Linked DNA regions of Homo sapiens. The protein of the gene in region 1 interacts with the protein of each later gene in a pairwise test. Each region holds a gene or a part of one and is shown in the gene's direction. Other genes may lie near its edges.

Region 1 (4,142 bases):
GATTGTAAAGCCATTTGGTAGTAGCTTTCAGGCAAAAACGACATGGCTAAACACCAGTCATTTTGTTAGATAACCCCATGTTTGTAGATCAAGTACTACTAGTTTGTTTAACTTGTTTTGGCTTGTGTTGTCAGCATTAATAATCCTCTCCATTCTGATTAACATAATAAATTAGGATACAAATATCACTAGGTTTATGTACTAACACATAAACATATACAACTACTCCCATTTCTTAGTTTAACTAAATTGTCTTCATAACCTTTGTATACTTATTTATTTATTTATTTATTTAGAGTCAGAGTTTCGCTCTTGTTGCCCAGACTGGGGTGCAATGGCGCAATCTCGGCTCACTGCAACCTCTGCCTCCCCGGTTCAAGCGATTCTCCTGCCTCAGCTTCCCGAGTAGCTGGGATTACAGGCATGCGCCACCACGCCCAGCTAATTTTGTATTTTTAGTAGAGACGGGGTTTCTCCTTGTTGGTCAGACTGGTCTCAAACTCCCAACCTCAGGTGATCCGCCGGCCTTGGCCTCCCGAAGTGCTGGGATTACAGGTGTGAGCCACCGCGCCCGGCCGGTATACTCATTTTAAAGAACTCCCAATTTCTGCATCTCAATTTTCACACTAGAGACGGCATATATTCACGTTTTGAAATTTTATTCAAAATGGTCTAATAGTTATTTAGTTGTTCTATATGATATAAATAGAGTTTTTTTAATGTGTAGTTTTTGTGTTTACTACCAATATTAGGATTGGTATTTAAATGGTTCTTTTAAAGTTTTGATGAGGGAATAAACTTTTTTTTTCAAAATTACATTTATTTATTAAAAGCTAAGGCATTAAATTGTAAAAATTTCCTGACTAAGGCTAAATTATATCTAGAATAATAAAATATGACTTTTTTGTAGGAGAAGACAGACTGCTGCTTTGGACCTGTTGGTAATGATGGCCTGAGCTAAACATCTAACTAGAAGGGATACCCTTCCATTTCAAAGAACAGAATGCTAAGGAAGCTGTGGCAAGTATGTGTTTCATTGTTTTGGTATGGTAAAACTCAGATACTGAATGTACTCACTTTAGATCCCATGATACTATATTTGTCTAAAGTTTTTAAAAGCTTTCCTTAAAAAGCAGCAGACATATGCTTAACACTTTTTTTTAATATACTTTCAAATTTTAAGAGCTATAAGTATAGGACTGCTTTAATTTAAAAGGAGACGGCATCATACTTCATAATAAATCTTGTATATTTATAATTGATTTTAAAATTAGTATTTGATAAAATCTGCTGTGTCAGGCACTATACCAAGTGCTGTGATAACAGAGGTAAACAAGACAAAATGTACCTTTGGTATGGGGAAATTGATCTAGAAATTTTGCTATGCTTTTGCCTATATCCAGAAAAATGCTTCAGGATGTACAAGAACAAATTCTGAAACTGTATTTTCAAAACGTAGGCTACTAATAATAGTTAATTATAAGAGTCAGGATATTAATTAAATACTCTTACTTATATTAACCATACCAAAACTTAAATATTTGAATATTGATCCTTTTGTAGTTCTTAAGTGTGATGATTGGGTTTTCATGCTTATGTGTGAAATGTGCCTTTCTCAAACCTTGTTATGACACTGGCACATTACCTGTGTGACGTAAAAAATATATATATATTTGAATGTATTTGTACATAATTGTTTTTATATTTTATCTGATTAATTAATTGGCTTTTATAAGAAGCATTTGTCCTATTGTTATTTTAGATGATTCCAGAAAATACTAGGAAAGATTTGATAAACATTAATGTGGCAGTTTTCATTTTTAAAAAATGGATAACAGAGTTCTTATAAGTTGATATTACCAATACTGATTACTATTATCTTTCAAAGTATTTTGAAAAATCAAATCATTATATCCTCAGTGAAGTGGGTAACAGTTACCTTACCATTATAAATAGGGAAGATAATGACCAGATGAATGGTTTTTCAGTCTTCAAAGGTAATCTCACTTGGAACTGAGAATAGCATTCTTGTGTTAGACTGGCTGTAAAAGACTTAACACACCTTCTTGAGAAAAGTAGGGAAAAATTGTTTTCAGTAGAAAATGACTTTTCGATCACATTCACAAACTCTTCACAAGATAAGAGATTTCATGATACTGCTAGTTTATATATCACTTTCAATGTATTACGTACTTACCTACCTACCTGCCAGCTGTGGGGAGAAAACTAGGATGTTAGTGTCCTAGGGAGAGACCTTTCAAAAAGACATTTCACTCCCGCAAATCTGTGGTCAGAGCTTGCCAGAAAAAAATCTGTCCGATTTGGATTCTTCTTTTAATCTTTAGTGTCATTAAGGTCTGCTTTCTCAGATGGAAAAAAACAGATAGAGAGGATAGGGTTTCTTACCTTTCAGCCTTAATTAGCATTAGCAAAGGTATCCTCTGACATTTGATTATCTTTGACCACAATTTCTTAGATGCTTTCACTTTTATTATTTTTATTCCTGTTTGTATATTCACTTTAATACTTGATTTTCTATTGTCTTGAGACTATTTTTTACAGTTTTCTTGAGACTTATCTCTCAGGTCATGATTGTAGGTTACCAGCAATCTTTAAAAACATTTGCTGTGGATGTAAATTTGTGTTGTCAAATTCCTAATTTAATTTTTTAAGAACTTGATGTTTCTAAATGTTTTAACATTTTATTTTTATTTTTACATTTTAACTTTGAAAATACCTTAATTGTATAAAATCACCTTTATTTTTTTTAACACGGTGGATACCTTTTGTTTTAATATGACCTAATTCTTTGTTTGTACTGTTTAGGCATTCCGTGATTTTTGTGGATTTGTAACTTCTAGTTGAATACAAACGTGTTAAAGTATTTTCAGCTGGCTAAACAGAACTCTTGACTCAGAGAGAAGTGAAACTAAATAGAATACAGAGTCCCAAACATTCTCGGTATATATACAAATGCAGATTCCAAGGGATTCTCAGTGTGTATATTTTTGCTACCTAAGAACAGTTTTATTTTTGATGCTACATCAAAATTAACATGATCCCTAAAAACTATAGTATCTTCTAAATGCTCTTTTTTTTTTTTTTTTGAGACAGAGTTGTGCTCTTATCATCCAGGCTGGAGTGCAATGGCGCAATCTCGGCTTACTGCAACCTTCTTCTCCCAGGTTCAAGCGATTCTCCTGCCTCAACCTCCCGAGTAGCTGGAATTATAAGTGCACGCCACGACGCCGGGCTAATTTTTGTATTTTTAGTAGAGACAGGGTTTCACCATGTTGGCCAGGCTGGTCTCAAACTCCTGACCTCAGGTGATCCACCCGCCTCGGCCTCCCAAAGTGCTGGGATTACATGCGTGAGCCACCTCACTCAGCCCTAAATGCTCTTATTTGACCCAGAATTGTTGTAAAAAACAAAGTTTGTGGCCAGGCACAGTGGGTCATGCCTGTAATCCCAGCACTTTGGGAGGCCGAGGCGGGTGGATTATGATGTCAGGAGTTCAAGACCAGCCTGGACAAGATGGTGAAACCCCGTCTCTACTAAAAAAAATACAAAAATTAGCCAGGCGTGGTGGCGGGCGCCTGTAATCCCAACTACTTGGGAGGCTGAGGCAGAGAATTGCTTGAACCTGGGAGGCGGCGGTTGCAGTGAGCCGAGATTGCCCCAGTGCACTCCAGCCTGGGCAACAGAGTGGGACTCCGTCTCAAGAAAAAAAAGTTTGTTTTTATTCATGTAAAATCTTACCAAATAGCATGCTTTTGTGGCTAACCAGGCCAACATATTGTTATCTGTTAATCATTTAATTTGAAGTCCAAACAGCCAGAAAAACCAGAAGCTTGCAAATTCAGTGCAGTTGTGGCTCTGTTTAATTATAAAATATTTTAGACTTTTTTTTAGTAGTGGGTAAGCATAGAATTTGAAACAATCCACTAACTTCTTATAGTGTATTACATTGAGGACTTATTTTTAATCTTTTTTAAAATGTAGTAGAACACTGTTAAAGTATAGTTTTCTCATAAAACAGAGAAGTAATGATTCTAAGTGCAAATTTGCATTTGCTGTCTTTATAATAACTATACCCTTTTCTCCTGAATTTCACTGCCAAAATCATTCTTTGAATGTTTTAT
Region 2 (4,142 bases), on another chromosome or scaffold:
ATGACGTTCCTAGACCCTAAGGTTGAGGTGCATGGGTCTGTGAGTTCCGTCTCTGCTGCTGTCACACTCGATGAAATCCTCTGAAGCAGGGGTCAGCAAACTACAGAAACTTATTACAGCTTTGTAATAAGTTTTGAAATCAGAAAATATGAGATCTGCATTTTTGTTGTTCTTTTCAAGATTGTTTTGGCTATTTGGTATCTTTTGAGATTCCCTGTGAGTTTTAGGATGGATTTTTCTGTTTCTGTAAAAACGTATATATACACACACATTGGATTTTGATAGGAATTGTATTGAATCTGTAGATTGCTTGGGTAGTATTAACATCTTAACAACTTTAAGTCTCCCAGTCCATGAGTACGGAATGTTTTTCATTTATTTGTGTCTACTTTAATTTCTTTCAGCAGTGTTTTTTGGTTTTCAGTAAACAAGTCTTTTGCCTCTTCAGTTAAGTTTATTCCTGATTATTCTTTTTGATGCTGTTGCAAATGGAATTGTTTTCTTAATTTCTCTTTCTGGTTGTTATATAAAATGCAACTTGATTTTTGAATGTGGATTTTGTATCCTGCAACTTTGCTGGATTTGTTTATTCTAACAATTTTTGTGTGGACTCTTTAGGACTTTTGACATATAAGACCACATCATCTGTGAACAGAGATAATTTTACTTCATCCTTTGCAGTTAGGATGCCTTTTATTTTGTTTTCTTGCCTAACTGCTCTGGCTAGGACTCCAGTACTATGTTAATAGAAGTTAACCTATATATTTTTAAGCATAGACATAAATACAGAATCTGGGCTTAAAACGTGAACGCTTTAGCCATGGCAAGGACTTTTTCAATTGGCTTTCATGAAACTCATGTTGGTTGTTTATTAATAGTTTTTCTTTTTTCTTCCCTTTTTGTAGAAAATTAGTGAATTAATAAAGAGACCCAATGTCAGCCCCAAAGTGAGAGAACTTTTAGAGCAAATTAGTGCTTTTGACAACGTTCCCAGGAAAAAGGCAAAATTTCAGGTATGAATTGACTTTCTTGAATGGAGGGGGCCGTGTGGCCCATCAGTGACTGAGCTTGTGTGTACCTGTCCAAGTGGGATCAATAGTTCTTTTTCTTTTTCTTTCTTACAGAATTGGATGAAGAACAGTTTAAAAGTTCATAATGAATCCATTCTGGACCAGGTGTGGAATATCTTTTCTGAAGCTTCCAACAGCGTAAGTCAGATCTGATTTTAGATTTGCATTGTGGCAAAAATAATTAGTAATAATGAAATGGGAATTTCTTATTTTTGGAAGTCAAGGCAGCCTTCTTTTTTATTTTTATTTTTTTGAGATGGAGTCTTACTCTGTTGCCCAGGCTGCAGTGCAGTGGTGCGATCGTGGCTCACTGCAACTTCTGCCTCTGGGTTCAAGCAATTCTCGTGTCTCAGCCTCCCAAGTAGCTGGGACTGTAGGCACGAGCCATCATGCCCAGCTAATTTTTTGTATTTTTTTTTTTTAGCAGAGACAGAGTTTCACCATGTTAAGCAGGCTGGTCTCGAATTCCTGACCTCAGGTGACCTGCCTGCGTTGGCCTCCCAAAGTGCTGGAATTACAGGCATGAGCCTCCGCACCTGGCCCAGCCTTCTTTTTTAGAGAACCTCTTAGTGCCTTCATTTATGGAAAGGAAGAAACTGAATGCACTGCAGAGACTTCCTTATTGTGAAGAGCAAGATGTTTCATCCCAATGTTTGATGCTGGTGCCAGCCCAGTATGTAATGATTTGCTTAGTAATCAGGCAGGGAGATAGATACATGGGAAAGAAAGAACAGGAGCTTTGGATTTCTGACAGACCTGGTTCAAATCCCTGCTGTGCAGTTTGCCTGACGTTTGATCTTAGGCACATTATTTAGCCTCTGAGCCTCAGTTTCCTTATCTAAAAAAAATGTGGATAGTAATATTCATTCATTTATTTAATACTTAACTGAGTGTCTGATCTGTGCCAGGACCTGAACAAAAAAATCTAAAGTATCCCAGGTGGTGGTGCATGAGGGAAAATAAAACAGGGTGAGGACGTAGTGACTAGGTGTTCCTCTGGATAAGGGGTGAGGGGGTCACAGCAGCCTCTGAAGGTTACGGTTAAGGTAGATGAGCAGTGTGCTTGAAGCGCCTTCCTTCTGGTAGAAGGAGAATTCCCTTCAAGTAATTAAATCAGCCACCTGTTAGTCAAAATGGTTGAATAGAGACCCTAAATGTGGACTATATATGTAGAAAATCTTGGTTTGCTATCTTTCAGCCACATTGTTGATTACATTGTTTATTTTTGTGTAAATATCAGTTTCAAAAAACAGTGGGGTCAGAACCCCACTGGTCTTTCATTCTTATCAAATTATCGGGAGTTGATTCACTTATGTAGAGAGAATACTTTCGGCAACAAGTGGGCATCAAGATGAAAATTTATCTCGGTAGTACACCTAGCGTTTGTCTCTTTCAGAAGGTACAAATTGGCCCTTTGAAACCGTATAACCGATCATTAGATTGGCCTTTATGTGGCATCTATTTTTTAAGGTTATTTCTGTTTTAACTAAGAATCAAAGATTTGAAATTGCTTCAACTGCAGGGTTTTAGAAAGTTTTTTCCAGTTTCCCTTTTGAAGTGTGAACATATTAAACATTAAATAAAATAAGGAGTAAACAGCCCCTGGTAAACCCTGAGCTCTGCGAAACGCAGCTTGTCATCCCTTACCTCTGCCTTTGCACCACGGCCCTCCCAGCATACCCTGTGTTTGTAGTGCAGAGCAGAGGGTCCTGAGGCCTTGTCCTCCGTACCTTGGTTGTTTATCCTCCTGTAACTCTGCCAGATGTCAGGTCGGATGCTTTTCTGTCCTCTACCCCATCACAGTTCACCTGATCACTGTGGATGCAACTGTAATTAGGCCAAGGTCCTGGCTGGTTGGAGCTGTGTTCTAGTGGGGGAGATAGGCACCACGTGCGGGTCCATGGTGTAATGTCAGGTCCTGATCAGCACTGGGAAGAAGCCAGAGGCATTGGGAGGCCAGGACTGAAGGAGGTGCTCGATTAGGAAAGAGTCAGGGCATCACAGAGGAGACCACATTTGAGGAGAGTGTGTAATGAGGTAAAAAGAAGATGGGGAAGAATTGGTTCACCTATTTATTGAGCAGCTACCAGATGGGTAAATGTGTGCCTCCCTCCCTCTCTCCCTGTGGCCGAGGAGTTGGTTTAGACAAAGAGGCAAGGCACCAGCTGAAAATCTGGTCTGGATTGTGTAGAAGGGATGCCAGGGTCTCAGGCTCTCAGTGGTTAAAATAATATTTTATGGCGGGCACAGTGGCTCATGCCTATAATCCCAGCACTTTGGGAGGCTGAGGCAGGCAGATCAGTTGAGGTCAGGAGTTTGAGACCAGCCTGACCAACATGGTGAAACCCTGTCTTTACTAAAAATACAAAAATTAGCTGGGTGTGGTGGCAGGCGCCTAGAATCCCAGCTACTCGGGAGGTTGAGGCACAAGAATCATTTGAACCTGGGAGGCGGAGGTTGCAGTGAGCTGATATTGTGCCACTGCACTCCAGCCTGGGTGATAGAGCGAGACTCAGTCTCAAAAAATCATAATGATAATAATATTTTACTAGAAGATATCGACAGAATTGTAGGACAGATGTGAAGTTTCTTTGTCCCCTTCTTCCTAAGTCTATTTCTGAAATCCTCCTCTGCCCTTTACCCCATGAGCCTTGACAACCTGATGCTGCTAAGCCACTGCTACTGAGAAAACCAGGTGGTTACATCAGTATCCATTTTCTTTTCTTTTGAGACGGAGTCTCACTCTGTCACCCAGGCTGGAGTACAGTGGCACGATCTTGGCTCACAGCAACCTCTGCCTCCTGGGTTCAAGTGATTCTCCTGTCCCAGCCCCCCGAGTAGCTAGGATTACAGGCGCTTGCCACCACGCCTGGCTAATTGTTGTATTTTTAGTAGAGACAGGGTTTCACCATGTTGGCCAGGCTGGTCTCAAACTCCTGACCTCAGGTGATCTCCCTACCTCGGCCTCCCAAAGTGCTGGGATTACAAGCATGAGCCACCGCACCCGGCCTACAGTATCCGTTTTCTTTTTTTTTTTTTTTGAGACAGAGTTTCATTCTTGTCACCCAGGCT
Region 3 (4,142 bases), on another chromosome or scaffold:
TGCGGTCCCATGGCGATCCCAACGCCCCACCATCAGGTTTCCCATGCTCTTTATAGCAGTAACCAGACCTTAAACCAAATACATTCCGGAGACTTAATAACATGGTACAAACACTTTACTGGGTTGGCTCAGGAGACTGTATTTGTGTATATGTGGAGAGAGAAAGAGAACACGGACACATTATTCATGGGAGAGGTTCAATGTGTGGATGGGAAGATATTCTAAAAATACATTCTCTTTACTTGGATTTATATGAATGGTTATTCTGCAATTCTCCTTCAGAGGGAATGAAGAAAAATATTAAGGCAAGCATGGAGCAGTGGGAGGTGCTTGGCTGAAGGCCTTCCTGAGGTTCTCCTAAGCTCTTCAATAGCCCAGCTTGTGGACTCTCCATCCCTGAGTACTTGGCCCAAGACACAAACTCTGGCATGCTGTATTGCTCCATGTGAGCTGGGGAACAAATACATGAAATATGCACGGAATAAAAGGATAGAGATTGTTGGCTGACCAAAAAGGAAGTCTCCTCTTTTCCTTGTAAAACAAGCCAAAGCTTCCCCCCAGATGCAAAGTATTTGAAAAGAAGAGCACCTGTGGGTAACTCCGTACTAGTTGTGGGGAGGATTTTCCCACCTTTGCTTCTTGACACTTAATCTACTGAGTCCTTTATTGCTGAGTTTATGGTGAGAACAGTGATTCTCAACAGGTGATTCTCAAAAGGGAAGACTGGGCAGTTTCAATAATGATAATCAGTATTCTAATATTTCACATTAAGGAAAAGAAAGTCTATTCATTCCACCACACACACTATAGCAGGAAAAACTAGGCCAAACTCTTCTTGACCAATATAGATATGGTAGATATGGAAAAGAACTGGTGTGGGGGCAGGAATGAAGATGGGAACACCCCCACAAGAAGCCAGTAACAGAATGTCCTTAGGAAGAATGAGATTCTTGTCCATCAAAAAGAAGTAGGAACTAAACAAGGTCAAGAACATGAGGTTGGAGGTTACATTGTGTGGCTGGAAAGAAGCCACACAGAGACTGAGAAACTGAGAAGGCAAGGACTCTTCTGACAGGGCAAGGTGGAAGGTGGTGGAGGAGGTGACGGTGCTATTACTGGCTTTCACAGATAAATGATAGAATAAGGGATACAATTGACAACATTGAGTTGTCAATGAGTTGCCCCTCAGAGGGGAAAAGAGGAATTTCTCTCCTAGAAACCTCAGTTTTGCTATTGTTGTCATTATTGTTGTGTTAACTTCACTCCAAGAAGATCAGTGCCCATGAACATACCTTACACTGGAAAAACTGACTTGCTAAAAAGAAACTCTATAAAGCAGACTAACTCTGAGGGACTTTTCCTCTTGACTTTTTTCCTTGTTGATACGTGACCCCATGTCCCAGCACATTGTTAGGGTCCTGCCATTAAAAGATTGCAGAATGTTTAATAAAAACATTTTAGATCTCTTTAACCATCTGCTTTCTTTTTTCTTATCTTGGTCACTTGCTTTGAAAAAGGTCCCTTGAGATCACACTAAGACCTCCAGTTGCTAGCCTGGGTTATCACTCTACATTGCTGTTCCAACAATTCAATTAGGTAATCTGAACCCCTTACATGCAGTCATTATTTCATTCATTTATTCACCCAACAAGCTGGTTTGGAGCCTTACCTCGAAAGAGCAATAAAATAGGTACAAGGAGCAATAGAAAGAAGGTATAGTCTCATCTTTGCCCTCAGGGGTGAGCAATTGAAGAGAGAAAAAAAATAAGTGGCCATTATATACAGAACAATGTACTAACATTCTATAAGAGTGGCTACAAGGTAAGTGCCATGGAGGTAATGTGAAAAAAGTATTATTCCTGTGCTAGACCAGTAGGGCACAAAACTTACTTGCCAAACACCAAAATAGGCTTCAAAAACCTTATTTTAGAAGAACTGGAATATAGCAGTGGTGGTAATAGCAATAATAGTATGGCTCATAGCTGATACTCGTTGAGTACTTACCACATGCCGATACTGATGTAAACACTTCCCATGAGTAATTTCCAGTAACTTTCATGACAAATCAATGTGACTGGTATCGTTATTATCTCATTTGATACACATAGAAACCGAGGCACAGAGCATTTGCCCAGGCCCCTGCTTGTAAGCAGCACAGCTAGGAAGGAGTTTATAAAAGCAGTTCAACTGTGCAAAAGTAGCTAGGAAGAGGTGATTAGGTAAATAGAAATATATATAGGAATACTTCTAGTCAAAGTTTTGGGAATTCCTTTTTTTTTTTTTTTTTTTTTTTTTTGAAACAGAGTCTTGCTCTATTGCCTGTCTGGAGTGCAGTGGCTTGATCTCAGCTCACTGCAACCCCTGCCTCCTGAGTTAAAGCGATTCCCCTGCCTCAGCCTCCCAAGTAGCTGGGATTACAGGCACATGCCACAACGCCCAACTAATTTTTCGTATTTTAGTAGAGACAGGGTTTCACCATGTTGGCCAAGATAGTCTCTATCACCTGACCTTATGATCCACCCGCCTCGGCCTCCCAAAGTGCTGGGATTACAGGCGTGAGCCACCGCACCCTGCTGGGAATTTCTTTAAATGAAGAAATATAAAATGCAATTTAAAGACCATTTTTGCAGTGCTTGTTAGATGAGTAGCATAAGTTACAAAAAGTTGAGATAACTTCCCTTCTCCGTCTAGCCTAATGACTACTTTTTAAAACTACTCACGTAAGAAAGAAAAAAACTAATACTTGTTGACTTCTACTATGTCCCATCAACCTCCATGAATTGTCTTAATACTAAATAGTGAAAATTATACCCATTTTACAGATGAGTTCATTGACATTTAAGAGTGGTAATTACCTTAACCAAATTTTCATATTCCTTTCTCTGCTTTCTGTATACCAGGGAGTCTTCCTGATAGAGCACTTTTTTTTTCAACTATAGAGTCTCCTTATCCTATTTTCTCTTTATAATGATATTCTAGGGTGTGTCCTCCACGTGATGCTACAGTCTATCTTAAAAGCTGTTGATTTAGATTAATAAGTAGGAAATTCATAACAGTATTACCTATGGAATACCTGGTCTATGTTATGGAATTTATTATAACATTGCTAAAAAGTAAAGAATTCCATTCCCTAGTGTTCCAGGGTTCTCTGATTTAACCAGAGGAAGTCTTTTCTTTTAACATGATAAAATAAAAATAACAGAAACTTTGCCATTTGAACTTTTTTTTTTTTTTTTTTTGAGACAGAGTCTCCCTCTGTCACCCAGGCTGGAGTACAGTGGTGCTATCTTGGCTCGCTGCAACCTCTGCCTCCCGGGTTCAAGCAATTCTCCTGCATCAGCCTCCCGAGTAGCTGGGACTACAAGCGTGTGCCACCATGCCTGGCTAATTTTTTGTATTTTTAGTAGAGACGGGTTTCACCGTGTTAGCCAGGATGGTCTCAATCTCCTGACCTTGTGATCTGCCTGCCTCGGCCTCCCAAAGTGCTGGGATTACAGGCATGAGCCACTGCACCTGGCCATTTGAACTATTTTTAAGGGCACAGTTCAGTGGCATTGACTATATTCACATTGTTATAAAACCATCACCATCAATCTCCAGAACTTTTTCATTTTCCCAAACTGAAACCCATTAAATGATAACTTCCGATTAACTCCTTCCTCCAGCCCCTGGCAACAACAATTCTACTTTGTCTCTATGAATTTAACTACTCTAAATACTCCATATACATAATCATGCAGTACTTATCCTTTTGTGCCTAGCTTATTTCATTTGGCATAATGTCTTTGAGGCTCACCCATGTTGTAGCATGTGTCAGAATTGCATTCCTTTTTAAAACTGAATAATACTCTGTTTATATGTACACTATGTTTTGTCCATTCATTTTGTTGATGGACATTTGGGTCGTTTCTACCTTTTGGCTACTGTGAGTAATGCTGCTATGAATATTGCTGTACAAGCCTCTGTTTGAGTTCTTGCTTTCAGTTTTTTGGGAGTGTATACCTAGAAGTGGAATTGCTGGATCATATGGTACAGAGAAAGTTTTAAGACTTGGAGTCTTATAGGGGCCAGGTAAAAAAGAATTGAGTGAATCTAGCTCGGTAAAGAAACGCATCCTGTGAGTGGTGGGCCTCGATAACAGG
Region 4 (4,142 bases), on another chromosome or scaffold:
AATATTTTAAATATTTGTTTAGAAGAGGATTTTTTGTGTTTTTTTTTTTTTTTTGACATGGTCTTGCTCTGTCTCCTAGGCTGGAGTGCAGCAGCTTGATCATAGCTCACTGCAGCCTCAAAGTCCTGGGCTCCAGCAATCCTCCCATCTCAGCCTTCCAAGTAGCTGGGACCACAGGCACACACCATCATGCCCAGCTAAGTGGAGATGGGATCTTGCAATGTTGCCCAGGCTAGCCTCAAACTCTTGGGCTCAAACAATCCTCCTGCCTTGGCCTCCAAAAGTGCTGGGATTATAGGCATGAGCCACTGTGCCTGGCCTAGAAAAGTATTTTAATTTTTACTTTGAAGAGTTAATTATTTAGAAAAGTGTTTTCAGTAATATTTTGTAGGTGATTTTCATTTTGTTGGCATTTTATTTATAATGCTGATTTTTTGTTACTACATTGAAGTTAGAGAATATGATCTATATAATTCTGTATTTCAGAATGTATTGGGATGTTGAGACTTTTCTTATGGCCCAATATGTGTGATATATTTTGAAATATTTAATATACACACATGTAGTCCCTATAGGGTACAATTTTAATAACTGTGTTATTGTCTTATTAATCACATTGCTCATGTAATATCCTTGTTTCCTTTTGAGGATTCTGATGATTGTATTTCCGTCTATTTTTCCATGCATTTTTTCTGCTTTTAACTTTTTAACTGCATCTTTTTTTTTCACTATAAATTTTAGAGGTAATTTTCCCACCACTTAGGGTACATTTATATTTTCCTTTTGATGCAAGATTTTATCACAACCTCTTTTCTGAGCTTTTCTCACCCTTGTCATTTTTTGTGTGTTACTGATCTTTAAACAAGCGAGATCCATTCAGGCAGAATGGCTACATCTTTTACTCGCCTGTTTTCTGTCCCCTCTCTCTCCTCTCCCCAGCCATCAAAGAGCTATCTTGATAACTTTTAAAATTATCTTTCACAACAGGCACTGTCTTTAAACACAGAGGAAGACATTCATCGGGCTTTCCAGTCGCTTCTCACTGAAGTGAACAAGGCTGGCACACAGTACCTGCTGAGAACGGCCAACAGGCTCTTTGGAGAGAAAACTTGTCAGTTCCTCTCAGTAAGTTGAATCAATAGAACAATAAAAGTTGCATTCAACATACCTGGTGATATAGAGTCTGGGAGAAAGACCCTAGAGAAATTGAGAAATTTATGTTAACCAATTTAAAAAAATTGCACTATTTTTTTTTCTAAGATGGGGTCTCACTACGTTGCCCAGGCTGGTCTTAAACTCCTGGTCTCAAGTGATCCTCCTGCCTGTTGGGATTACAGATGTGAGCCACCACGCCCAGCCTAAACTTCTTTTTTTTTTTAAAGACTGCAATTCTATAATTATACCTTGCATTAGTATTGCAAAAGTAGTCTCTACTTTTCTTGAAAGGTAAAATTGAAAGGTAAAATTCTCAAGTTCATTTCTGGTTATTCAGGGTTCAATACATACCTATTCACAAACTCTGATATTTTAACATATCTTCATATGATCACTTTTAAAGAGTTATGTATATTCTTTTTATTAAAAAAAGATAACATATTTAGAATTTTTGGAAGTTTGCTGACATTTGTATTTAGCAATGCAGCCTCACTGAACATTTTTCTCTCCAAAGACGTTTAAGGAATCCTGTCTTCAATTCTACCATGCTGAGCTGAAGGAGCTTTCCTTTATCAGAGCTGCAGAAGAGTCCAGGAAACACATCAACACCTGGGTCTCAAAAAAGACCGAAGGTCAGAATGACAAGTTATTGCACCTTCCTCCCAACCCGTCCTCCTCCTGCGGCTCTTCCTATTCCTCCTTCCCGCCTCTTATATCCTCTCTCCTCCTCCTCTCCCTCCTATCCCTCCTCCCTCTCCTCACCCACCTCCACCTCTCCACTCCGCCCCCTCTAATTTCACGGGTGTTTCAGATGGTCAGAGTAGTGTTGACTGGCAGGGCCTCCTGGCATACTGAACCTTGATGGACTCATAAAGGTTCTGATCAGACATTCAGGTTTTCAGCAACAGAGATTTACTTTTGTCTATTCTCCCAGGACCAGAGTAGCTGATACAAATGTCAAAAGAGGGCCAGCCACGGTGGCTCTCGCCTGTAATCCCAGCAATTTAGAAGGCCGAAGTGGACATATCACTTGAGGTCAGGAGTTCGAGACCAGCCTGACCAACATGGTGGGACCCCCCCCCGCCCAACATCTCTACTAAAAATACAAAAATTAGCCAGGTGTGGTGGCCCATGCCTGTAATCCCAGCTGCTTGGGAGGCTGAGACATGAGAATCACTTGAACCTGGGAGGCAGAAGTTGTAGTGAGCTGAGATCATGCCACTGAACTCCAGCCTGTCTCAAAAACAAAAAACAAACAAAAAAACAAATGTCAAAAGAATCTCAGGCCAGGTTTCCAGTTTAATAACTTGCATTAAAATATACTCTCCCTGGCCTGTAACATTCACATGTCAGGTGACTCCATTGTCTCTGCGAGAAGGAGATTGGTGGACAGATCTTGCCTGAGGTATACACTTGGGCTGCCTCTTCCTAGGTTCTGGGGGACCTCCATCACCATTACCTTTACCTGCTAAGGTCACTCCTGACTTTTCATGTCTTCCACTTAAGCTCCTTTAGTTTGACTTGATAAGCCTACATTTGATTGGTTAACTGCCGACCCTCTCTCAGGGCTGATCAGTTCCACAGACTGAAAATACCCTCCATTTGGGGTTGAACCTTATTCATCTACATTTCAGAAAGTGACGTGTTCCAGTCTAGGCCTCCAAGACCAATGATGGTCTGATGAACCATTCAGACTCCTCTGCGCCAATTATGCTTAGTACCACCAGGAACATTTCCATTTCTGTGAATAAATGAGACGGTAAAGAATGGGAGACGTTCTTCGCTTAAAGTCTCAGCAGTTGTTTCCCGCATTCCTGCTTGGAGTATTTACCACGGATGCTCTCTTCAGGCAGTGGGTTAGCAGGGATGCCCTCAGTTCATTGAAACAGTACCACTTGATCTCCAGGGAAAGAAGGGGTGATCTTTGTTTGCCCACATCCTCTTTTCCAGGGATGCCTAGTGCTTTGTTGAGGGGATTCAGCAGGAATATCTCCTCCAAAAGCTTCTGGAAACTCCCCATGTGCCCAATGTCAGCTCTTCCCGCTTTGAGCCGTCCATTCTGGTTGCTTCTGACATGTCCATGTATAGTCACAGAATGTTAGAACTGGGTGTGATCATGAAGGGTTGGATCAAACACTCCAATTAACCATGTGAGACAAACACCCCTTCAGCCTATCACATTTCCTGCTGGTCTTGTTCTCCAACCTGGTGTAATTTTTCTACTTTGTACCAACCTGCTTTCCTCGAGTGACTTAGGTATCTTTCACCATCCTCAACTTGGTGGATGTTCTCAAGGTGTCAGTAATCATGAATACCACTCATATGTGCTGTTTTTATTTCTCTACATAACAACCCAAACTCAGCAAAGTTGAAAACAGAAGTTTGCTTCTCAACTAATGATCCAGGATCATCCAATGCATCAGGTTCTTATAAAAAGCAACTGAATGTAGTCTCTACTTTTCTTGAAAGGTAAAATTGAAGAGTTGTTGCCGGGTAGCTCAATTGATGCAGAAACCAGGCTGGTTCTTGTCAATGCCATCTACTTCAAAGGAAAGTGGAATGAACCGTTTGACGAAACATACACAAGGGAAATGCCCTTTAAAATAAACCAGGTGGGGGAAGCTTTTTAAAATCCTGCTAGTTTGATGAAGAAGTTGAATGGAAAGATTTAACTTTGTAAAAGTGTAAGTGACATAAGCGTAAGCCAAAAGGAATTTGAAACTTAAAGTATTTCTGAATGAATTTCTTAACTCAGTAGAAAAAAACGGAAGGAGTAAAAGATATTTGCTGCATATATATATTATATATACGTATATATAATATATATATATATATGTAGTGTTTTATCACTGCTCTTAACTGCCTTTGATAATTTCTCATAAACCATTGCTGCCACCTAGTTTTGGAAACTAAAGATCTTCCTATAAGCCCAATTTACTTGGCTAGAAAGCAAAAAAAAAAAAAAAAAAGTGTTAAGGTAGTGTGAT
Region 5 (3,234 bases), on another chromosome or scaffold:
GTCTGACTGATAAATTAACTCAGGCCCAGATCTTTGACTACGGTGAAATCCCCAACTTTCCCCGAAGTACAGGTACTGGCAAGGGAAAGTGGGGAATGGGACTGAGGGATGTTCTTGGAATTCTGTGGAACACAACCAAGGAGGCCAATGTTTCTACTCCTTGACCTAGCATTTCACTGAAGACAAATGTTGTAAGAGAGGAGAAAAGCCCACCATGAGTCAGAGTGACTTTAGGAGATGCCTCTAGCAGACATCCCATAAGAGACAGGACATGTGTGTGTCAGTGGACTGAGGCTAAGACTCAGAAGAGGGCCAGGTGACAGGGGCCAAGTAAAGGGCAAGGGTTGTTTATTTGGTTTACGTAATTTCTCAAATAACTAACTTCTGTTGGTTTATTTATTAATTTTTAAGATTTCTATCTTCTTTTCCCTGGAGAGTTAAGAATTTTTTTTTAAGACCTGTCAGCAGGAAAAGACCTTTAATAGCTATTTTTTTAAACTCTTTAACACAAGACTGGAAGAGCAGAGGGAGAAGGTGAGGGAAATATTAACAGAGGGTGTGTGAAGGGCATACTTCTCTAAGGGAGATAGTAGTGACGCTGGCTCCACTGGCCACTCCTACCCCCAGTGAGAAGGGCACTGCATTAAATGATAAGTGGGTTAGTTTTTTTAAGCTTATCAACATGTTTATTTTTTATACTCCACTTGGGTTTCCTTTGTCAACTTTATTACTGTTTTTGTTTTGTTTTTTTGCATAAGCTCCTCTATCTTTGAGAATTTCTCAGCTCTTCCTCTTGGTTCTAGTCCCTCTCCCATTCCCTAAGGGATAGGTTGGCCGTCTATTAGAAGTGACTGCCAGATAAAAGAAATGGTAATAATGGCTGTTATGTCTGTGGGGAGTTATCTTTGCACTCCCACGCACCCCTCCGTGGGCATGTGTTCCCATAGGACTGTTCCGTGGGTCATAAGGAAAGAGACACTTGCATGCGTTCAAATTCTTTCCCCCTTGTTCAGTAGCCTCTTCTTTAAGAAGCCAGAGTAAGTATACTATGAGCTTGCTTGCTGGACTGAGGAGGCAGGTAATTAAGTTAGGGCAATAGATAAGAATACATGTTTTGAGAACTTTGAAAAATTTGAAGAGGTCTATAATTACTGCATTCACTGTACTCACTTTATTTTGAAACAGAGTCTCGCTCTGTCACCCAGGCTCGAGTGTAGTGTTGTGATCTCGGCTCACTGCAACCTCCACCTCCCAAGTTCAAGAGATTCTCCCACCTCAGCCTCCCGAGTAGCTGGGATTACAGGCATGTGCCACCACACCTGGCTAATTTTTGTATTTTTAGTAGAGATGAGGTTTCACCATGTTGGCCAGGGTGGTCTTGAACTCCTGGCCTGTTGATCCGCCTGTCTTGGGCTCCCGAAGTGCTGGGACTACAGGTGTGAGACACCGCACCTGGCCTATTTTTAATTTTAATTTTTATAGATTTACAGGGGTACAATGCAGTTTTGTTATATGGATATACTGCGTGGTGGTGACGTCTGTGCTTTAGTGTAACCATCACCTGAGCAGTGAACATTGTACTTATTAGGTAATTTCTCATCCCTCATCCCCATCCCACTTTCTCACCTTTCCGAGTCCCCAGTGTCTATTATTTCACTCTGTAGGTCCATATGTACACATTTGGTTCCCACTTATAAGTGAGAACATGTAGTATTTAATCTTCCATTTCTGAGTATCTACTTTTTTTGCTCACTTTTTACTCTCTGGCAGTATGGCTTGTATTATCTTGAAATTTCTTTAAAAAGCCCTTCCTTCTTTGTGTGTTCATGCTGAACATGCTGAACGCACCCCATATCTCTAATCTTGGGTTGTATTTGTATAATTATTAGTAATGCCTGGCTCTCTCACCAGACTTAAACTTTCTGAAAGCAGAGATAATAATGAGTCTTTTACTTAATTACAACCTAACATTTTGAGCAGAGCGAGTAACTCACAGTAGGTGCTTAATGGATATGTGTTGCATGAAAATATAATCCCATTCATTTCTCTTTCTGTTTTGTATACAGTGCCAGGTCATGCTGGCCGACTGGTGTTTGGGTTCCTGAATGGCAGGGCCTGTGTGATGATGCAGGGCAGGTTCCACATGTATGAAGGGTACCCACTCTGGAAGGTAAGTCAGAGGGATAGGTCCGGTTGGATCTGGAAGAGGCAGGAGAGAACTATCTAGCCTCTTTCACTACCTAGCTATCTGGGCTAGGTGGATTTTTGGTCCTCTCCTTCCTTTTCTTTCACGATGTATGTCATGCATTTCAGTGTAGCTGAATTAATGAAATTTTGTAAATTTTTTTCGGATTGTTTGCTTCGAAGGTGACATTCCCAGTGAGGGTTTTCCACCTTCTGGGTGTGGACACCCTGGTAGTCACCAATGCAGCAGGAGGGCTGAACCCCAAGTTTGAGGTTGGAGATATCATGCTGATCCGTGACCATATCAACCTACCTGGTTTCAGTGGTCAGAACCCTCTCAGAGGGCCCAATGATGAAAGGTATGTATGTTACTCCGTTTTTTTTAGGTGGGTAGGATTTAAAGACTTCTCTAGGAGCTGTGGGAGAATTTTTAAAATTCCGTTTATGTGAGATAATTCAACCTGTGTCCTAGGTTTGGAGATCGTTTCCCTGCCATGTCTGATGCCTACGACCGGACTATGAGGCAGAGGGCTCTCAGTACCTGGAAACAAATGGGGGAGCAACGTGAGCTACAGGAAGGCACCTATGTGATGGTGGCAGGCCCCAGCTTTGAGACTGTGGCAGAATGTCGTGTGCTGCAGAAGCTGGGAGCAGACGCTGTTGGTGAGAAGGGGAATTTGGCTGGAAGCTTGAAGAGGGAGGGGTTTAGCAAAATGGGAAGGGGAAGGAGTAGGAAATAACAGGCCTCATTGGACTGAGAGGATCTGATTTCAGGGAAGGGTGAATTAAACTGACTTATTGAAATACAAACTGGTGAGATTTGGTGTAGCATCAAATCTCCCTACGAAGCACCAAGGGGTTAACAGCTGCAGTGCTAATGAATGATCTATCCATGATTTGATGACTGTTTTTTGAGACGGAATGTCGCTGTGTTGCCCAGGCTGGAGTGCAGTGGCATGATCTCGGCTCACTGCAACCTCCGCCTCCCGGGTTCAAGCAATTCTCATGCCTCAGCCTTCCGAGTAGCTGGGATTACAGACGTGTGCCACC
Region 6 (4,142 bases), on another chromosome or scaffold:
GGAGAGGCACCTGGCTGCCCTCTCTGGTTCAGGGTTTTGCTGTGGATTCTGTTGCATTTTCCAGGGAGGCCAGCCCCTCTCCTGACCTCACAGCCACTCCTCTCACCCAGCCCGTACAAAAGAGTCCTGGGCCTCAGTTTCCCAGCTCTGGGGGAGGGAGCCTTGTGGTGTGGCGGTCTCCACCTTGTCGGGTGGGCTGGGGTCACGCCCTCCTCACTCAGCTCTCCTTTCCTTTCCTCTGGTTTGCTCCACACCCACAGGGAACTGCAGCCCGGAGTTAAAGCCGTGCAGGTCGTCCTGAGGTATGCCCAGGTGTGCCCGCGACCCCAGGGCTGGACCCCCAGCCACCCGCCCCTCCCCGCCCCCCAGTCCTGGCCCAGGCCCTTCTCAGTCTCCCCTGCTAACAGCAGAGCCCAGCTCTCCTCACCTGCTGTCTATCCCTGTCTGGGGATACATCACCATCCGACCCCCACTCAGGCCACACCCGGGGGCCCTGATACCCCCCGTGTCACATTCTCCGGTGCCCCCATCACTGCCGCCTGGCTACCACTCGTGTACCCCCGCAGCAGCCTAGTCCCTCCTGTGCGCCCCCTCCCCGCCCCATGGTCCCTGTTGTCGTTGCAGAATCTGTTACTCAGACACCAGCTGCCCTCAGGAGGACCAGTACCCGCCCAACATCGCTGTGAAGGTCAACCACAGCTACTGCTCCGTCCCGGTGAGCATGCCCCGCCCCCGCGTCGGCTGCACGGGTTTGGGGGGCGTGGAGGGAGGGTGGGGGCCGTCGGATTTCCCAGCCGCTCTTGGCTCGAGGCTGAGCGGCCCATCTGCTTGCAGGGCTACTACCCCTCCAATAAGCCCGGGGTGGAGCCCAAGAGGCCGTGCCGCCCCATCAACCTCACCCACCTCATGTACCTGTCCTCGGCCACCAACCGCATCACTGTCACCTGGGGGAACTACGGCAAGGTGAGTGCGTGCCCGGGTGCCCACCCTGCCCCCCAACCCCGGCCCCGTCCTGCCAGCCCTGACCCCTTCCTTCTGTCCCCAGAGCTACTCGGTGGCCCTGTACCTGGTGCGGCAGCTGACCTCATCGGAGCTGCTGCAGAGGCTGAAGACCATTGGGGTAAAGCACCCGGAGCTGTGCAAGGCACTGGGTGAGCAGCTCAGGCCACCTCGGCCGAGGGGTGCCAAGTCCACCCTGGAAACCCGCCCTGTGCTGGGTGAAGCGGGGGGCCCTGCACCCGGAGGAGATCGATCAGGGGCCGCCTGTCACTCTGGGGGTCCATGGCCCCCCGGCTGTGGCTGGGGAGGTCTCTGGAGGATACGGATGGCAGAGGGGGCACTTGGCAGTGGGAGCTGCTGTGCGGAGGCCTGTGGGGTCACACCTCGTGTTGCTGGCCCCAGGTGCTCCAGCCCACAGGGGTCTAAGCAGCAGAAGAGCTGGAGCCTCATTCCGGGACAGCACAGAGGCCGGGAGGGGTGAGAGGAGCACAGAGGGAGCTGTGGTCTAAGCAGCCCCTTCTCGTTGCCTCAGCGGGGCCGAGGGTGCTGCGGGACCTGGCGGGTCACGGACGGCCAGGGTCGTGGAGGCAGTTGCTGTGGGAGGAAGACGGGCGGCGGCGGTCTGACCTCACGTTGGTGAGGCCCCGTTTAATCTTTTTTCTTTTTCTTTTTCTTTTTTTTTTAGAGAGTCAGGGTCTCTGGGAGGTAGAGGTTGCAGTGAGCTGAGACTGCATCGCTGCACTCCAGCCTGGGCTGCAGAGCGAGACTCCACCTCAAAAAAAAAAGTGTCTCGGTGTATCGCCCAGGCTACAGTGCAGTGGTGGGATCGTGGCTCACTGTAGCCTCTAACTCGGGCTCAAGCCATCCTCCTGCCTCAGCCTCCTGAGTAGCTTGGGACCACATGTGTTCACCACCACACCCAACTAATTTTTTTTTTTTTTTTTTTTTTTTTTTTTGAGACAGAGTCTCACTCTGTTGCCCAGGCTGGAGTGCAATGGCACGATCTCGGCTCACTGAAACCTCTACCTCCTGGGTTCAAGCGATTCTTCTGCCTCAGCCTCCTGAGTAGCTGGGACTACAGGCATGTGCCACCATGCCCGGCTAATTTTTTGTATTTTCAGTAGAGACGGGGTTTCACCTTGTTAGCCAGGATGGTCTTAAGCTCCTGACCTCGTGATCCGCTTGCCTCGGCCTCCCAAAGTGCTGGGATTACAGGCGTGAGCCACCACGCCCGGCCCCAACTAATTTTTTAATGTTTCGTAGAGATGGAATCTTGCTGTGTTGCCCAGGCTGGTCGTAAACTCCTGAGCTCAAGCAGTGCACCTGCCTCAATCTCCCAAAGTGCTGGGATTACAGTCTTGGCCACTTTCGCACCTGGTCTCTTTTGTCCTTGTAACAATGAAAACAATTTTTTTTAAGTGACACGCAGAGCAATTTTAAAAGAAAGCCTGCCGGCAAGGCGCAGTGGCTCACACCTGTAATCCCAGCACTTTGGGAGGCCGAGGCGGGCAGATCATGGGGTCAGGAGAGCAACACCATCCTGGCTAATATGGTGAAACCCCATCTCTACTAAAAATACAAAAAATTAGCCAGGCGTGGTGGCAGGCACCTGTAGTCCCAGCTACTCGGGAGGCTGAGGCAGGAGAATGGCGTGAACCCAGGAGGCAGAGCTTGCAGTGAGCGGAGATCGTGCCACTGCACTCCAGCCTGGGTGAGAGTGTGAGACTCCATCTCAAAAAAAAAAAAAAGCCTGCCAAGCCTGGTAGGCAAATCAGTCCTCACCCCAAGCAGCCACGCAGCACAAAGCCAGCGTACAGCAGTTAGCCCTGCCTGGCGGCTGTGTGGCCTCAGAAAGTCGCTGGCCTTCTCTGGTGGCCACTGTCTTCAGGAGAATAGATCTGAGCCATCTTGAGGGCACCTGGACATCTCTCTGGACCCCACATGCTTGGGGCCCAGGCCTCAGTGGGCTCTGCAGGCCTGTCTTATGGAGAGGCTAGGCCTAACCTGGAGTCATTTGGAGCTGGGAGTGGGAGTCAGGCAGGTGGGTGAGGACTGGGACCACCTGCCAGGCTGACGAGAGGGCGGTTCTGGGCCAGCCGGGTTTGCTCGCACCCCCTTCCCGAATGGTGGCTGTTTTCAGGTGGAATCTGGGCACCACCCCAGCCCCTTGGCAGAATGTGGGCCAGAGGGTCTTCCAGCTGCCCCTCCTAGCTGCCCAGGCCCCTGTGCCCAGGCCAGAGAGTTCCCCATGAGCACTGCCCTCCTGGCACAGCCAGGCCCAGGCCTCTGGTCCCTGTTCCTGACCACCAAAGGGCACCTCCTTGCCTGGGTGTCCAGAAGCCTGGAGCAGTGCTGGCACTGCCAGGGGCCTGCGAGCCCCATCGTGTTGAAGCCTCCTGTGCACTCCAGCCCCCCAAGTCAGGAAAGATAGCCGGCAGCACCCCCTCTGCAGAGCAGGACGTGGAGGGTGAGGGGTCCCTCCACGGAGTCCGGCATCCTTGGCCAGCCTCCTCCAGGCTCGGGGATGGAGGGCCTGGCTATGTACCCGTGTGACCAGTGGGGACACTGAGGCACAGAGTGGCAAAGTTAGGGTTCTGTGTCCTGGGTTACCCCGCCCCACCTCCCTCTTCCCTCAAAGGGCCCTTTTTTCAACCGCCCCCGACCTTCCCTGCCTGTGGGGACATGGCCAACTTGAGGGAGGAGGCTGGGGCCGGGCAGGCCTCTTCTAGGCCCACGGGGTGGGGGCCGGGCTTAACTCCTCAGTGACCAGAGCCCGCAGTGCTGGGGGCTGTGGGGTCAGGCTTCCTCTCCGAAGGGGTCTCCTGCTGCTTCCCACAGCCGGCCCCAGGCTCAGCCTCTCTGTCACTGGATTTCTTTCTTGCTGCACCTAGGAAGTCCTCACCTTTGCCTCACTTGAACCCTTCCTGCTGCGCACGTCTCTCCATACACAAAGGAGGGAGAGTTTGCTTTAAAATCAGATGGGCACCTGCATCCCCTCCTAGCTGCCCCTTTGCCAGGCTTGAGGGTCCACCCGGGCACCGGGTAGCCAGAGCTGGGATCCAAGGATGGAAACTCAGCTGAGGAGTGAGCGGCTGGGGCAGCCTTGGCTCAAGCAGGGGAGCTGCTGGGAGCCAGCACGTGGC
Region 7 (4,142 bases), on another chromosome or scaffold:
GGATGAAAGGGTAACTGTCCTTTGGCAATGACAAGCCAATACCCCGAGACATGTGGAATTCACCAGAGTCCAAGTCCAGGCTTTGGTAGCTTCATTTTAAGAGTAACAGAAAATGTCTTTTTTGAGGGGGAGGGAGAAGCTGGGTAACTTTTGTGAACAAATCTTCTCTCTTTGGTGCTGTTGCAGGGTAGAGAAGGAAGTGGGTGGGATGGAGATGGCTCACGAAGGGATGATCTGGAGTCTGGCTTGGCATCCTCTTGGGCATATTCTCTGCTCAGGCTCAAATGACCATACTAGGTAAGCTTTATATTGAAATAGCAAAGCTTTATATGGAGCAACAGGAAATAAATACTGTATGTGTTTATTTTTATTGGTTGATTGATATAGTAATTTATATTCCAACTTATTCTTGGGAATATTTTTGTAGTGGTTTACAAATACTTATATTGCAATAAAGAGATTGGGTATTGAATATGGTTTTGGCTATTCAAATTTTGTTTTGCCTTCTGACTTAAAACAGAAGTTTTCCACTTTTATTTATTTATTTATTTATTTATTTGAGACAGGGTCTCTGTCCAGGCTGGCGTGCAATGGTGCGGTCTCAGCTCACTATAGCCTCAACCTTCCTGGGCTCAGGTGATCCTCCTACCTCAGCCTCCTGAGTAGCTGAGACTATAGGAGCACACCACCACACCTGGCTAATTTTTGCATTTTTTGTAGAGATGGGGTTTCACCATGTTGCCCAGGCTGATGTCAAACTCCTGGGCTTAGGCAATCCTCCTGCCTCAGCCTCCCAAGGTGCTGGGATTACAGGCATGAGCCACCTTGCCCGGCCCCACATTTTATTTTTATTTTTATTATTATTTTAAGAGACAGAGTCTCACTCTGTCACCGAGACTAGAGTTCTGTGGTGAGATCACAGCTCACTGTAGCCTCAAACTCCTGGGCTCAAGCCATCTTCCCGCCTTATCCTCGTGAGTAGCTGAGACTACAGGTGTGTGCCACCACACCCAGCTAACTTTTTAATTTTTATTTTGTAGAGACAGGGTTTCGCTATGTTGCCCAGGCTGGTCTTGGACTCCTGGACTTAATCCTCCTGCCACAGCCTCCCAAAGTGCTGGGATTACAGATGTGAGCCAAAGTGTATGACCTCACATTTTAAATTTGTAGAAGAAACAAATTGTAAAAATGTGTTGTGTTTACCAAGGGTCTGCCTAGTACTGTTTAGTGCCCAAAAAAATAGTGAAGCCATGCTTCTTTTCTCCTTTAATTATTTTTACAGCAAATTCTGGACTCGAAACCGACCAGGTGATAAAATGCGAGATCGATATAATCTAAACCTTTTACCTGGAATGTCTGAAGATGGAGTAGAATATGGTGAGACTCTTGCACATCTGTCCTTCTTTGAAATCTGGTATTCTATTACAGAAGTGTTAGATGTTGGGAAGATTATACAAAATGAATTTTAATTTTATAGTAGATTTATTTATAAATCATCAGTGACATTCATTTTTATAAAGCATTAATTTTATCAGTCGCTACTTTTGTAAATTCTCTATTGACAATGGTGTATTACTATTTATAGATGACCTCGAACCTAATAGCCTGGCAGTAATTCCAGGAATGGGAATACCAGAACAACTAAAATTAGCTATGGAACAAGAACAGATGGGTAAGAGAAGTTACACAGACACATTTAATTTTTACAAATTTTTTCTTGACCCGTTTATGTTCCTGATAAATATATTGAAATACCAAAATGATTTATGTTGAGAAATGTTGATAAAAATTATATAAATGACATAATACTTAAAATCTATTCTTCCAATAATGTGTTCATTGATCAAGTGGCCAATTTCTTTTATTTAAGAGGCAAACCACTTTTCTTTACGGTTACAGGGAAAGATGAATCAAATGAAATTGAAATGACAATTCCAGGTTTAGATTGGGGAATGGAGGAAGTGATGCAAAAGGATCAGAAAAAAGTACCTCAGAAGAAAGTTCCTTATGCAAAACCCATTCCTGCTCAGTTCCAGCAGGTAAGTAAAAGTGACTCCACCTCATCCACGCAGAGAGGTTTTGGTTGGTTAGTTTGAGGTTTCTCTTGGATTATCTCACTGTTGAAGGTGTTTCTGTACTGGAGCATTTTTCCCATGTTCACGTACTCTTAGACATGGTTCTCATCTACTGCTTTGCAGTTGTATTGAGTTTGTTATCAGTCTTCTCTGTTCTGTCCTCACCTGCTTATTATCATCCATGCTATGAGAGGAAATAGAAGAAAGAGGCATGGAGCAGAGGGAGTATGGGAGTATGTTGCTTCTCTTCTCCATTGTTTATCTATCTTGTGCTTTAATTGTCCCCTCAACACAAAGTGCATGTACCCTGTGAAGAGGCTGGCAAGCTTTGCATTCTTAATAACATGCAGTGTCTTGCAGCTTTTATCACCATAGTAATTTCTACCTAGTAATATGTCAGTAAGAATTAGCATGAGTCATGTACTTGAGTCATGGAGAAAAGGTAAAAAGAAATAAAATCGGTTCAGAGGTTAGATTGAGCAGATGACATTGTAGAGTGGTTTTCTCATTCTATCATTGTAATTTTCATACTTAGCGTACATTTTAATATTCTCTTCTTTCCCAAGGCTTGGATGCAAAATAAAGTTCCAATTCCTGCTCCAAATGAGGTGCTGAATGACAGAAAAGAAGACATTAAATTGGAAGAGAAGAAAAAAACACAAGCAGAAATTGAGCAAGAAATGGCTACATTACAATATACTAACCCACAACTTCTGGAGGTGTGTGAAGCTCTGTAGGGGGGAATTCAAGATGATCTAAGAGGGTAGTGGTGACATTTTTATTGATAGGCTCTTAAGGAAAAGGGAAGGGGCTCTCCCATGGTCTGACAAACACCGCCATTTCCTGTTGCTATGCTAGAAGACTAGTTTCCAAAAGAATCCTGTTTCTTAAAATTTTTTAAAATGTGTTATTTATGTATTTTGTTTTATTTATTTTATTTTAGAGACAGAGTCATGCCCTGTCACCCAGGCTGGAATGCAGTGGTGCGATCACGGCTTGCTACAACCTCTGCCTCCCAGGCTCAAGTGATCTTCCCACATTAAGCCTCTTGAGTGGCAGAGACCACAGGCATGCACCATCACGTCTGACTAATTTTTTTTTAAGTGACTTCCTTGAGTCATATCTTGGACTTTTAAAACCCAATTAGGGTCAGGCGTGGTGGCTTACACCTGTAATCCCAGCACTTTGGGAGGCCGAGGCAGACAGATCACCTGAGATCAGGAGTTTGAGACCAGCATGGTCAACATGGTGAAACCCCACCTCTACTGAAAATACAAAAATTAGCTGGGCATGGTGGTGCATGCCTGTGGTCCCAGTGACATGGGCGGCTGAGGCAGGAAAATGGCTTGAACTCCAGAGGCAGAAGTTTCAGTGAGCCGAGATCGTACCACTGCACTCCAGCCTGTGCCACAAAGTGAGACTCTGTCTCAAAAACAACAACAACAACATAAAAAAACTGAATTAGTGGGGCAGTGAGTAGATCTAAGTTAAATATACATTTTTAATAGAAAAGATAAAGCCAACATAGTTTTAATTTGAATTCACCTGTTTATGAAAGAGTTTTTCCTTTTTGTCTGCTCATATAGCAGGTAGCTTGTTCTTATTTTTCTTATCTATGTTAGCTACCAAGAATGATGAATTAGTGGTGAATTATTGGGCTTTCCCTGATCAAGATGGACAAAAATAATCCTGACTAGGCCAGGCACAGTGGCTCACGCCTGTAATCCCAGCACTTTGGGAGGCGAGGCGGGAGGATCAGCTGAACCCAGGAGTTTGAGATCAGCCTGGGCAATATAGCAAGACCCTGTCTCTACAAATAATAATTAGCTGGGTGTGGTGGCATGTGCCTGTAGTCCCAGCTACTCCGGAGGCCGAGGTGGGAGGATCACTTGAGCCCAGGAGGGTGAGGCTGTAGTGAACCACGATCGTACCACTGCATTCCAGCTTGGGGGACAGAAAAAAAAAATAAGGAAAAAAAAATCCTTACTACTGTGTCCCAGGACTTAAAAAGAATGAGAAAGAACCTAAAACTCCTTACAGTGCTTGAGTGTTGCATGGACTCTAATT

The links.
Region 2: the proteins of ZHX1 (region 1) and LYAR interact in a two-hybrid assay, tested with the Homo sapiens proteins (one large-scale study listed by BioGRID and IntAct).
Region 3: the proteins of ZHX1 (region 1) and LAMA4 interact in a two-hybrid assay, tested with the Homo sapiens proteins (one large-scale study listed by BioGRID and IntAct).
Region 4: the proteins of ZHX1 (region 1) and SERPINB9 interact in a two-hybrid assay, tested with the Homo sapiens proteins (one large-scale study listed by BioGRID and IntAct).
Region 5: the proteins of ZHX1 (region 1) and PNP interact in a two-hybrid assay, tested with the Homo sapiens proteins (one large-scale study listed by BioGRID and IntAct).
Region 6: the proteins of ZHX1 (region 1) and PIAS4 interact in a two-hybrid assay, tested with the Homo sapiens proteins (one large-scale study listed by BioGRID and IntAct).
Region 7: the proteins of ZHX1 (region 1) and WDR33 interact in a two-hybrid assay, tested with the Homo sapiens proteins (one large-scale study listed by BioGRID and IntAct).

The regions. Positions count from the first base shown.
Region 1 is NC_000008.11:123,264,155-123,268,296, reverse strand, and holds part of ZHX1 (zinc fingers and homeoboxes protein 1), read left to right. Parts: intron 1-910; 5' UTR 911-1,003; coding exon of another isoform or gene 1,004-1,024; intron 1,025-1,551; exon of another isoform or gene 1,552-1,655; intron 1,656-4,142. Other genes in the region: ZHX1-C8orf76 (zinc fingers and homeoboxes protein 1), read left to right, coding at 1,004-1,024. UniProt on the Homo sapiens protein: Acts as a transcriptional repressor. Increases DNMT3B-mediated repressive transcriptional activity when DNMT3B is tethered to DNA. May link molecule between DNMT3B and other co-repressor proteins.
Region 2 is NC_000004.12:4,276,513-4,280,654, reverse strand, and holds part of LYAR (cell growth-regulating nucleolar protein), read left to right. Parts: intron 1-905; coding exon 906-1,013; intron 1,014-1,124; coding exon 1,125-1,208; intron 1,209-4,142. UniProt on the Homo sapiens protein: Plays a role in the maintenance of the appropriate processing of 47S/45S pre-rRNA to 32S/30S pre-rRNAs and their subsequent processing to produce 18S and 28S rRNAs. Also acts at the level of transcription regulation.
Region 3 is NC_000006.12:112,247,596-112,251,737, reverse strand, and holds part of LAMA4 (laminin subunit alpha-4 isoform 1 precursor), read left to right. Parts: intron 1-4,142. UniProt on the Homo sapiens protein: Binding to cells via a high affinity receptor, laminin is thought to mediate the attachment, migration and organization of cells into tissues during embryonic development by interacting with other extracellular matrix components.
Region 4 is NC_000006.12:2,893,036-2,897,177, reverse strand, and holds part of SERPINB9 (serpin B9), read left to right. Parts: intron 1-987; coding exon 988-1,125; intron 1,126-1,669; coding exon 1,670-1,787; intron 1,788-3,624; coding exon 3,625-3,767; intron 3,768-4,142. UniProt on the Homo sapiens protein: Granzyme B inhibitor.
Region 5 is NC_000014.9:20,472,406-20,475,639, forward strand, and holds part of PNP (purine nucleoside phosphorylase), read left to right. Parts: coding exon 1-72; intron 73-2,066; coding exon 2,067-2,170; intron 2,171-2,367; coding exon 2,368-2,543; intron 2,544-2,656; coding exon 2,657-2,847; intron 2,848-3,234. UniProt on the Homo sapiens protein: Catalyzes the phosphorolytic breakdown of the N-glycosidic bond in the beta-(deoxy)ribonucleoside molecules, with the formation of the corresponding free purine bases and pentose-1-phosphate.
Region 6 is NC_000019.10:4,027,886-4,032,027, forward strand, and holds part of PIAS4 (E3 SUMO-protein ligase PIAS4), read left to right. Parts: intron 1-260; coding exon 261-302; exon of another isoform or gene 303-304; coding exon of another isoform or gene 305-312; intron 313-624; coding exon 625-715; intron 716-834; coding exon 835-963; intron 964-1,045; coding exon 1,046-1,151; intron 1,152-4,142.
Region 7 is NC_000002.12:127,720,488-127,724,629, reverse strand, and holds part of WDR33 (pre-mRNA 3' end processing protein WDR33), read left to right. Parts: intron 1-186; coding exon 187-297; intron 298-1,282; coding exon 1,283-1,377; intron 1,378-1,585; coding exon 1,586-1,672; intron 1,673-1,899; coding exon 1,900-2,039; intron 2,040-2,641; coding exon 2,642-2,794; intron 2,795-4,142. UniProt on the Homo sapiens protein: Essential for both cleavage and polyadenylation of pre-mRNA 3' ends.